3 linked regions of the Homo sapiens genome follow. The protein of the gene in region 1 interacts with the protein of each later gene in a pairwise test. Each region holds a gene or a part of one and is shown on either strand. Other genes may lie near its edges.

The links. The genes of interacting proteins can lie anywhere in the genome.
Region 2: the proteins of ARHGEF10L (region 1) and SCN2A interact in a two-hybrid assay, tested with the Homo sapiens proteins (one large-scale study listed by IntAct).
Region 3: the proteins of ARHGEF10L (region 1) and ANXA9 interact in a two-hybrid assay, tested with the Homo sapiens proteins (one large-scale study listed by IntAct).

What each region holds. Positions count from the first base shown.
Region 1 is NC_000001.11:17,633,698-17,637,197, reverse strand, and holds part of ARHGEF10L (rho guanine nucleotide exchange factor 10-like protein), read right to left. Parts: intron 2,651-3,500; coding exon 2,636-2,650; intron 2,364-2,635; coding exon 2,182-2,363; intron 1-2,181.
Region 2 is NC_000002.12:165,308,914-165,312,413, forward strand, and holds part of SCN2A (sodium channel protein type 2 subunit alpha), read left to right. Parts: intron 1-251; coding exon of another isoform or gene 252-343; intron 344-438; coding exon 439-530; intron 531-1,409; coding exon 1,410-1,682; intron 1,683-3,111; coding exon 3,112-3,175; intron 3,176-3,500. UniProt on the Homo sapiens protein: Mediates the voltage-dependent sodium ion permeability of excitable membranes.
Region 3 is NC_000001.11:150,981,158-150,985,091, reverse strand, and holds the start of ANXA9 (annexin A9), read right to left. Parts: upstream 2,801-3,934; 5' UTR 2,713-2,800; intron 2,606-2,712; 5' UTR 2,509-2,605; intron 2,003-2,508; 5' UTR 1,987-2,002; coding exon 1,912-1,986; intron 1,755-1,911; coding exon 1,658-1,754; intron 1,118-1,657; coding exon 1,023-1,117; intron 812-1,022; coding exon 698-811; intron 507-697; coding exon 416-506; intron 1-415. UniProt on the Homo sapiens protein: Low affinity receptor for acetylcholine known to be targeted by disease-causing pemphigus vulgaris antibodies in keratinocytes.

The DNA of each region.
Region 1 (3,500 bases):
GTGCCAGACTCCATGCTAGAGACTGGAGACAGCAGTACACAAGACAGACAGGGTCCTCATTCTTCCGGAGCTTATGACCTTGGCAGGACAAGTGGCGGAGGAAGCAGTCAGTTAACAATGGTGGGTGGTAGGAGGTGGTGGGGAGAAAGATATCAGTGTGGTGGGACAGTGATGGGGTGAGGGGGCCCAGATCACCAGTGATGATACAGATGGAGTAAGGGTGAGATGGGGGTAGGGGGTGGCAGGTAGAGATAGAGCAGGAGGGTCCAGGAGGACCAGATGGGGAAGGCCTTGAACGCTAGGCCCCTGGGCTAGGAATTTGGACTGTATTCTCTAGGCCGTGGTTTTGCACACTGAGGTCTTATGAAGCCCCAGGGGAGTGGAGGGGAAGCCTTATTTGGGGTTTTCATTTAGATAATTATCTGAGTCACCTGTGTGGAATGAGTTTAAAGCCACACTCTGCTGCCTGATATCAAGGCTTCCATGGACTATGGCACCTGAATGGTCACCTGGTAACAAGCAAAGAGCATGGCGAGCTTGGGATGTGGACAATGTGCTCACATCAGAGGGGCTCTGCAGTGACCCAAACTGGGGAGCTCATGGGAAATGCAGATCCCCACAGGGCACCCTGTGGCACAGGCACGAAAGCGCAGAGGAACCTGCTCTACCAGGGCCTGAGCCACATCCACACTGTGAACAAATTGGTTTCAGCAAAACAACATCATCCATCACATTACATTAATGCTGTTAATTTGAATGTTATGGTTTTGTAGCTTTATTTTTATTCAATTTGTGATTTGGTGTTGGTTTTATGGTTCTTCAAGGGCTATAAGCAGAAGGAGTTGATTACAGGGAGTTTTGCGTTTGTATATATTTGAATAACAATATAATGAAGGGTTCCACAAGAACTTCTTTCCCCTTTCGAAGGGGTCTGGCAGTACGTGACTCTGGTTTGAGGAATGCGGCCACAGACACATCATTGTCACCGAAGGAGGGATCCCCTAAGCGTCCCTGGAGTGCATGAAGGATGCTAGACCGCATGACCAGCAGAAAGGAACCCTGTGCCCCAAGCGGCGGGGAGGGAGTGCAGTTGAGCCAGGGCAGAAGGTGCCTCCGAGGAAGGCACGTGGGGCAGAGGACTCTTCCTACCCAGCAGAGCTGAGGAAAGAGACAGCATCTGGAAGTGGGCACAGCTGTCACGGACCAGCACCCAGACGGCAAGAGTAGGTGGTGCAATCACTCCCTCAGAATTTCCAGAATTGTGGGTGGCCCATGAGGCAGCCTCCTGGGTCAGACAGCAGACAGAGGGGGAAGTGAAACCCCAGTGCCTTTCTCACCCACAGAAGATGCCTCGGGCACCAGGGTTCCTTTCTGCTGCAATTTAGCATCCTGCATGCATTCAAGGAACACTTATTAATGCCCACCGTACCCTAGGCTCCTGGACAGAGCTGCAGCCAGGCTGAGAGGAGAGACATCAACCGATCAATCACCCATAAAGGGGAAAATGTACCAGAGGTCTCGAGAGCACAGGAGGGGCGACCTGGCCCAGCATGAGGGCATAAGAAAAGGCTTCTCTGAGGAAGTGCCATTTGAGCCAAGAGCAGATGAGACAAAAACAGGATGGCAGGAGAGTACTTGGCAAAAGGCACAGGCTGGAGAGGGCGTGGTGGGAGGGAGCATGGCCCATCCAGGAGCCCAGAGGGGCTGGCATGGCTGCAGCAGAGAGAAGGGGCAGAGGGAGGTGAGTGAGGCAGGTGGTACACCCTCAGGACCGGCAATGGGAAGCCACTGGGGCGGGATGACGTGCACTGATCTGACCTGCATTTGGAAGAATCAGCCCTGGGGATGGGCAGAGGATGGACAGGGAGGGGGCCCAGGTAGGAGGAGGGAGGAAGAGCAGCCAGGTAGCTGGCACAGCAGGACAGAGTGTGTGGCAGCCAATGTGAAGGTGGAGCAAAGTGTGTGGATTGGGAGATGCACCTGCGCACACCCAGGTGAGGCCATGGCTCTGCATTAAGGTCCAGGGTGGGGCTGCAAAACCAGCAAGAGCTTCCTGGCCAAGCCACCCATCAGCCTATGTAGGGGTCCCCAAGACAGGGCCAAGCCTGGGTAGGAGCAGCCCAGGCTGTGGCTGGTGAGGGCGAGGGTGACGAACGCAGGGCACAGAGAGGGGGTACTCACTCTGAGCCTGCCCTGAGGCAGAGGCCTTCTTGGCGCCTGAGTGCTGGATGAGCACATTGTCCTTGTCATAGGTGCCACCGTCCTGGCCCACCTCCACCACCTGCACCTGGGGCAGCGCCGTGTTCCACTTCACCACATACTTGGGCCCCAGGGGCACCAGGCTGCTGATCTCCAGCTGGCCCCTGTTGGAACAGAGAGGACAAGGCCCTGGAGAGGCTGCAGCCACCCTGCCCCAGGGCTGGCCCAGGGCATTGCTCCTCCACACCAGCTCAGCCAGGCTTCACGCAGCCCCAGCGCAAGACCTCAGACCAAAACCAAGCCAGGCAGAGCAGGGATCCCTCGCCAGGGTAGAAGCACCAGGCGCCCAGGCCCCAGCCCCATATCCAGAATCACATGGCACCAGAGCCCCAGAGCCCCAGAGCCCCAGAGCCCCGGAGCCCCCTGAACCACGTACCTGTGGTTGGCAGGCCTGGGAAAAAAGACAAGAAGGAAAGGGAGATTGTTATTACAATGGAGTGGCTAATCTGGGGGCTGTGACCCCGCTGGGGGCCAGCCATGGGGCTGGGCATCGGGAATAGAAGGAGAGACAGCCTCCTGCGGGGAATGAGGGCATCAGAGGCCAGGTGTGGACAGAAGCGGGCCTTCCTTCATCTCTGGGTCTCACAACAGCCCCGCTAGGAAGCTTAGATGATCCCAGACAAGGACACTGATCCTCAGTCAAGTGAAGTGACTCAGCCCAAATCACCCAAACTGATTCCCCAAAACCGGGCCACTAGCACCCCACTTTGCACTTTGCGCTAGAGCAACATGAAGGCAGAGAGGGTATTCATCATACCGCCGGCACCACACGGTGCCCAGGATATAAACGGGACTGAAGAATTACCTTCTTTGATTGAGTGAGTGAGTAAATGAATGAATGGGTCAGCCATAAGCCCTGCCCAGACCCATGTGTGACAGAGGCTTCCTTGCCTGAGTCCCCAACCAGGCCCTGAGCTCCCGGAGGCAGGGGCTGGATCTCATTCTAGGTGTGAACTGGCACAGAGCCAGGTCTCGGACTACATTCAATGGATTCATAGACGGGTGGACAAATGGGTGGATGGTGAATGAGTGCACAGGTCCTGAAACAGCCCTGCTTGTCCCCTTCCAGGACTCGTGATCGGTAACCATGGAAAATCCCCAAACCTACTCTGTGGCCAAACCCAGGAAGGCCCAAGCTGACTCGGTACAGGGCCTAGAACTGATTCAGCTGGGAGGCGGGAGAGCTATGCTGGGATTCACATTCCACTGAGGTGATTGTTTCCCTCCTGGATTTCGGTGAT
Region 2 (3,500 bases), on another chromosome or scaffold:
TCTTCCAATCAAATTATCCAGTTTGGAGAAATTAGGAACTATCATAGTAAATTACATGGCTTTGGTTTCAATTAGCACTGTAAAGTAATAAAGTTTCCCAAATAACAGAGATTATGATTGATGACAATGCCATTTTCCTCTTAATTGGGAAAGCTGATGGCGACACTCATGAAATTAAAAAGGTCTTGATGAAAGACCAAGGAAGACGTAGATTTCCCTAAATTCTGAATAACTCTGATTTAATTCTACAGGTATGTAACAGAATTTGTAAACCTAGGCAATGTTTCAGCTCTTCGAACTTTCAGAGTCTTGAGAGCTTTGAAAACTATTTCTGTAATTCCAGGTAAGAAGAAAATGGTATAAGGTGGTAGGCCCCTTATATCTCCAACTGTTTCTTGTGTTCTGTCATTGTGTTTGTGTGTGAACCCCCTATTACAGATATGTGACAGAGTTTGTGGACCTGGGCAATGTCTCAGCGTTGAGAACATTCAGAGTTCTCCGAGCATTGAAAACAATTTCAGTCATTCCAGGTGAGAGCTAGGTTAAACACCGAGGCTGACTTTAGCTACAGTGGTGCTACAATCACAGCTTTTGTGCAGAAGCCTTGTTGCTAGTTGCATATTGCAAATAAATATGTAAAAAAGCAAGAATTGGTACATCATTTTTTGGATGGATTTGATTCTTTGCTTTTTACTCGTTGCTTTCTTTAAAACTATTCTAAATCAGCCTTTGAGTTTAACAAGTGTTGCATGAGGCATTTGCAGTAACAGGCTACATGGTTTGCATCCTATAACATCAAGCTTTCCGCATAGAAGCTAGACTAAGAGACATTCAGACTGATGCAAATTTGACAGTTTAGGCCTAAAACTGGCAATCTTTTAAGCTGCAGATAAATGAAAGAGCAAGGGATAGCATGAGTGCTGCATGGGGCTCAGATTTCAGATGTCTTCCTTTTTTTAACCCATACTCAAGCTTGCAGAATTCACAAATATATAACCTCATAATTCATCGACTTCAAGATTTCTTACTACTCTATTCACATAGACTTTTCTAAAACCAATAAGGGGTTAGGGAGTAAGACATCTGCAAATAAAAGCAAAATATTTACACAAGGTTGATGTTTAAGCATGAATAACAAAATCATTCTTTTGCTCTAAAGAGTGTTTGGAAATACACATTTGGTTCATTTCCATTCACAGTTTTCTAATGAACATACAAGTTCTGCTTTCATTCATTTTCACCAGCTAGCAGGCTTTTCATGAAAATGTTATTCAATCACAAACATTAAACTAATATTGTTGGCATTCTGCATGACATTTTTATTTTCCAGGACAAGCTCATGATATTTTTGCCGGTAAAATAGCTGTTGAGTAGTATATTTAAATTCCCCCTTCTGATTTTGTTTGTAGGCCTGAAGACCATTGTGGGGGCCCTGATCCAGTCAGTGAAGAAGCTTTCTGATGTCATGATCTTGACTGTGTTCTGTCTAAGCGTGTTTGCGCTAATAGGATTGCAGTTGTTCATGGGCAACCTACGAAATAAATGTTTGCAATGGCCTCCAGATAATTCTTCCTTTGAAATAAATATCACTTCCTTCTTTAACAATTCATTGGATGGGAATGGTACTACTTTCAATAGGACAGTGAGCATATTTAACTGGGATGAATATATTGAGGATAAAAGTAAGATATACTCTATAAACCATTAAGTTGTTTAGTTCTCTAAATATTAAATATTATATATAATGGAAATTATCTCAATTTAGATGTGAATCAAGTGACTTAGACTAATTTAAGATGATTTAATACATATAAAAGAGATATCAAATGATACCTTATTCTATTTTTCTTATCTGTCCATTGATATAGTAAAAGTTCTCATTTGAAAATGTGTTGTCTTATACTCATGTTGAAAGTAATTTCATATTATGCCATATTAAAAAATGTTTATTTGGTAGACATTAATCAGGTTTTTCAGTCATTTTAATAAATAAGTCAGTAGTTTGAACTATTCAGTGTATTCCACTGAAATGTGTTAAGAAGACTGAGGGGAAATAATTTGGCCCTATTTGGTTGATGCAACATATGTATTGAGTACATATGCTATATCTGAAAATAGAGAAACCATTTATCAAGATGAAATAAGAATTTGTGTGCTCCTCAGAAGGTTAAGTAACCCTGATTTAGCCATTCACTTATTCATATTCTAATTAGTCCCTTTAGTGTCATCATTGTATTGTAGTTACCAGTTTAGTTTGATTATATTTAAGGTATGAACATCAGAATAAGCTTATGCCATATACTTCAGCATGATTTCTTAACATTGAGCCCAGCCCCTCTGTCATTTTTCATATGTGTGTGCATGTTTGTATGTGAATATAAAAATACGTATGTTTGCATGTGTGTGCATGTTTTCTGAGATCATCTTTGCAACTTACTGAAGTTATATGTCATGCCTTAAAAATAAAAACTAGATAGCTCTCCATAGCTTAAAAATAAAAACTAGATATACTCAGACAACATATCTCTCCAAAGAAACAAGTTTATTTTCTTCATTTGAAAGGCAGAAATCAAGCAAAAATTTCAAACAAAACACTTATTTACAGTATCATAAGAGGGAATAAATACCTAATCCCACTTCTCACAGGAAATTAAGTTAAAATTGGCGGGAAAAAATGTCTGAATCTATTTTGAGCCTGGGGAGAAAAGTATATGTAAGGTAAAATTTATTTGCATGAAAACACCTAGAAACAACAAGGCTTTCTTCTTTCTTACTTTTTGTGCCCAGCAATAGACTGGCAGCTCTTTCTTAATGTATCCCATGCAATTTGAGCTTATATTTGCAATGAATGCTGATATAAGAATGTTATCATAGTAATTCCTTCTGAACATTTTTCTTTTTAACATAGATTTGCTAACCATTTGTATAATCAAAAATGTTATATATTGATATTTGTTCAATATTGTGAAAAATCTCTTTAGCCATATATATTTATTAGTTTATCCATCTCATTATGATTGAAAACATTTGTGAGCTTTGCCACCTAAACAGGGTGGCTGAAGTGTTTTACAGGATTTTAATGATTCTTTCTATTCCTTTCTCTTTAAATAGGTCACTTTTATTTTTTAGAGGGGCAAAATGATGCTCTGCTTTGTGGCAACAGCTCAGATGCAGGGTAAGTGATGCTTCCTACTGAGTTTCAGTCCACACTGCTCCATCAGTGTCAATAACCTGCCACCTCCCACTCATCCAGTCCCACTCACTCCTCACTCAAAACCCTCCATAAATTCTACTTCACGGTGACTCTCAGAATAGCCAGGATAAGTGTAGATTCTCACCTCTTTCACACAGTCATTTACTGCAATTATTTTTCTATGCTAGGTCACATCTAATCTTCCAAATTAGTTCAATGTAAAATAGAGAATAAAGCAGTATAATATGCATCTGAAGCTTAATAGAATTCTTAAGCACATACTTTTTATAAGTGTCATATTTTATAT
Region 3 (3,934 bases), about 130 Mb from region 1:
CCAAGCTGGGGTGATCCTCCCACCTCAAACTCCTGAGTAGCTGGGACCACAGGCGCACACCACCATGACCAGCTGGTTTTTTTGAATTTTTAGCACAGATGAGGTTTTCCTTTATTGCCTGTGACTGGTCTTGAACTCCTGGGCTCAAGTGACCTGCCCACCTCAGCCTCCCAAAGTGTTGGGGTGACAGGCATGAGTCACCGTACCTGGCCTGCTTCTCTTTTTTTAATGATCACATCTGGGTCTCTCCCCTGAGAGACTGAGGCACTGGTGGGGGCAAGAGGAAAGACCCCAAGGGAATAGAACTTAGGCAGCCAGGTTGCCAGATAGCTCACCTATGGGGAGTACAGGAGAGGAGTGGCCTGTCCTACAGCCCCTTCTCCAGCATCTGGGACCCCTCCCTCTATATTCTTACTGTGTTTGTAGACTGCCAGGCACTCCTGCAGCTGGGGTGGGGTTCGAGTGGCAAGAATTTCAATGGCCACGTCCACAGCAGAATCTGAGGCCTACAAGAAATTGGGAGTCTACTCTCAGACTGGCCGTGTCATTAGGATGGCAGACAGAGGGGCAGACGCTGGCTGCTTCTCCTTCTAAGAAACAATATGGGACGACGAGAGGGGGACTCTCGTCTTGCAAAAGCAAGGCTGACAGCCTTCTCCCTTCCCCAGACACCCCAGCAAGTCTCCCCTCCTGCTACCTTCAGAGCTGTCCTCAATTCCTGGGCGTCAAACTGGGCTGTGGGCTGCAGCAGAGCCATCACAATCCTCTCCAGGTTGCCGGAAAGTGCTGCCTGTAGAGACTTCATCAGGTCCTACAATAAATGGTCCTCACAGCAGAGGGACGGGGGTGAGGGGAAGGGCCCCAGAAGTGTGGGGAGGTTTGGGAAGATTTGGCTGGTTTTCATCTCAGGCCCTGTTTAGCCAGGAAGCAGGGGCTGGCCTCAGCGGCTGTTGCTGTCTCTCGAGTCCTCCAGGGGGTTTCTCACCCCAGTCCACTGCTGTGGGAGGTCAGCATGGCCTCACCTGTTGGGTGCGCTCCTGGAAGTTTCGTGAGATGAGCTGCCTTTGCTCTCTGCTCCGGTTGGTCAGCACGTCCACAATGGCACTGCGGTCCACGCCTGAACCGAGATGAGGGCTGTGCTGTGAGCAGGGTCTTTACATAGTGGGATGTTCCTACTCCTTGGAGGAGGGAAGGCGCTCCAGGAGAGGGCTGGGAAGGAAAGGAGCAGGGGCTATATCACCCCCACTTCCATTTTATCTCAAAAGAAGTTGCAAATAAAATGTCAAAACAGCATGCAAATCTGACCCAGACCAAGGCAAAGGTGGCCTGGTGTGGTGGTTAAAAAAAAATACGACTTGGGGGGATCGGCTGACCTAGATGAGAATACCACCTCCGTCATGAGCTGAGTGACCTTGGGCAAGCCTCTTAATCTCCCTGAGCCCCAGTTTCCTCATCTGGAAAATGGAAATAATAAGCCTTGCCTCACAGGGGTGTTGTGAGAATGGGTTTGACACACCTACTGTGGCGCCTGACATACAAGAATGAAGGCATTCCACAAACATTTCTCCAACATCACTAGTTCCTCCTTCCTGGCTCCTCCTTGGTCTACAGATTGGCTCTAAAAGGCAGTCTCAAGTGCCGGGGGAAAGGGGCTCACCTTGGCCAGTAATGGCCCTCAGTAGCCTCTGCGCATCCTTGTCCACGCTGAAGTTCAAGAAGGTCCTGAGGGTGCCCAGGGTCCCCCACGCTGCAGTCTGTGGGAGCACAGGGTAGTTGGCAAGGGCCAGGGCCAGGCTGCCTACACCTCCTCAGCATAACCTCAGGGCCTGTCCTCCACTTTCCTGCCTCCCATCCTCTCACAGCCCGAGCTGAGATACTAAAAGTGATCTCTAAAATCCCAACAGCCCCTACCTTGCTGGCCAGGCCCAGGTGGCTGAGGATCTCCTGGGTGAGGGACGGTGCCATCTTCCCGCCAGTCACAGACATGGTGCTACTGGTTGCCCTGGGGAAGGAAACAGGAGCCCACAGAGCTGAATTTCCTGGCCCTTCAGGGACTCCTTATGACCCCCCCGAGACCCTGGACCCTGGGTTCCAGTCACCTGTTCCTTTCCTTGCTGCAGAAAAAAAGATCAACCTGCTTAGGCTTGGAGCCAGAAATGGAGCTGAAATGGTGAGGTAAGAGGGGAGCCCCCACCTTCCCCACCTCTCCCCACTCCTTTAGGAAGTGGGGATTGATGCGGAATGCTCCTGGACCAGGCGCCAACCCTCCCTGATGCCAGGGTCAGCACCAAAGCTCCTCAGGCCTTGGTCCGCGGTAGATGCCTCCCTTCTGAGGTCTATGGCCCTCCTTCCTGGGCCTGGCTGGGGTCTCCTGGGCAGTGCAGGGGAGCTGAGGTGAGGTGGCAGGATTAACCACGCAGAGTGGAAGACAACTCGAAATAGCATCTTCCCCCACCGGCAGCCCCAGCTGACAAGCAACCCTCAATTCCTGCCTGTACAGCTGCCTACCTGCTCAGCAGCACAGGAGCACAGGCCGGAATCTCTAGGTCAGCAGGTGCAATCTCTTAGCTGATGTGAGCAAGAGTTCTTGCAAGTACGTGGATGCCTGGACAGAAAGGAGGCACTCTCATGTTGGAAAAGGAAAACTCATTTTTCCCTCCCCCAAGCAATCAACAAGCCCTCCTGGCATGGGGCCGTGGGCCCAGTACTTACTCAGAGGTGCCAGAGGTGAGGTGGGTGTCGTTGTTGTGGCCTGGTAGCTTGCCTGTGTGAGCACTGCCTCCGGTGTGGCCTGGTAGAGGAAAGTGGGGGTGTGTGCAGCCTAGGCTGAACAGCCAGTCAGATGACCTCTCTTAGGGACGAACCCAGCAGTTGTCTGACTCTGGCCCCTCCCAGACGTGGGAGAGGACCGGGCTGTACAGAGTCCCACATGCAGACACCTTCCTGCCCAGCATCTCTTCTCCCAGGAACTGGGCCTCAATCCATGTGAGTGAACTCCACTCAGCCTCTCAGCGGCTCAGCCTCAAACACAGGAGGCTTTTATGCACTGCCTTCCCTGTGGGTCCAGGTGGGACCACAGAGACCTAGTCTCAAAGTCCAGCTTCTGACCTGGCTCTGCCCCAGCTTCTGACCTGGCTCTGCCTCTGGCTCCAGCTCCCTGGGGGGCAGGTCAGACAGGCTGCAGGCTGATTTCAAGGCTGATAGGGAAAAACCTGTTGGGGCACATACCAGCAGGGCACCCCAGCCTGCACCCCAGAGGGGGTCCCAGCCCAGAAACTCCCTTGACTGCTGCCTTACTAGAGCCAGCTGACCTAGGTGGAGAGTGCCCAGGGATTGTGTATATCTGTGGAGAAGGAAGGGCACAAGTATTTGGGAGTGGAAGTTGATGAACAGAGTCAAGAGAGAAAAATGCAAAGGGTGTTACCTTCAGAGGGAAGCTCTATGCTCCCAAAAGGCAACAGGGAGATGGGGGAGGCTCCCTTGCCTGGTTTCTTAGATTGCTTCTGTTGCCTTTTGGCAGCCTGGGCCCTGTGGCTGTTTTAGCTGCAGGTGATGCAACCCCAGCAGCTGGACTTGAGGCTGTCTCTGCACAGAGCAGCAGGTGAACAGCCCTGTGGAGCCCCCGCCCCGCCATGCAGCAACTGCTCCAGCCTCACAGCTGGCTCCCTCAGGTCTAAACACAGCCTCTTTCCTGCCTCCCTGGAGAGCCTGGGTAGGGGCGGGGCACAGAAGCTACAGCCCTGCCTCCACTCACTCCTCTGCCTCTCTCCCAACTCAGGAAGGCCTTCACTGGCATTCCTACATCCCTGGAGGAGGGACCTGCAGTGGCTCCACCACACTGAGTAGACCATGCCGGAGGACACGCCATGAAAGGATATTTCTGTGGCGGTAATCACTGCTCCTCACTTTTCTCTCCTGTTAAAAGGAAAACATG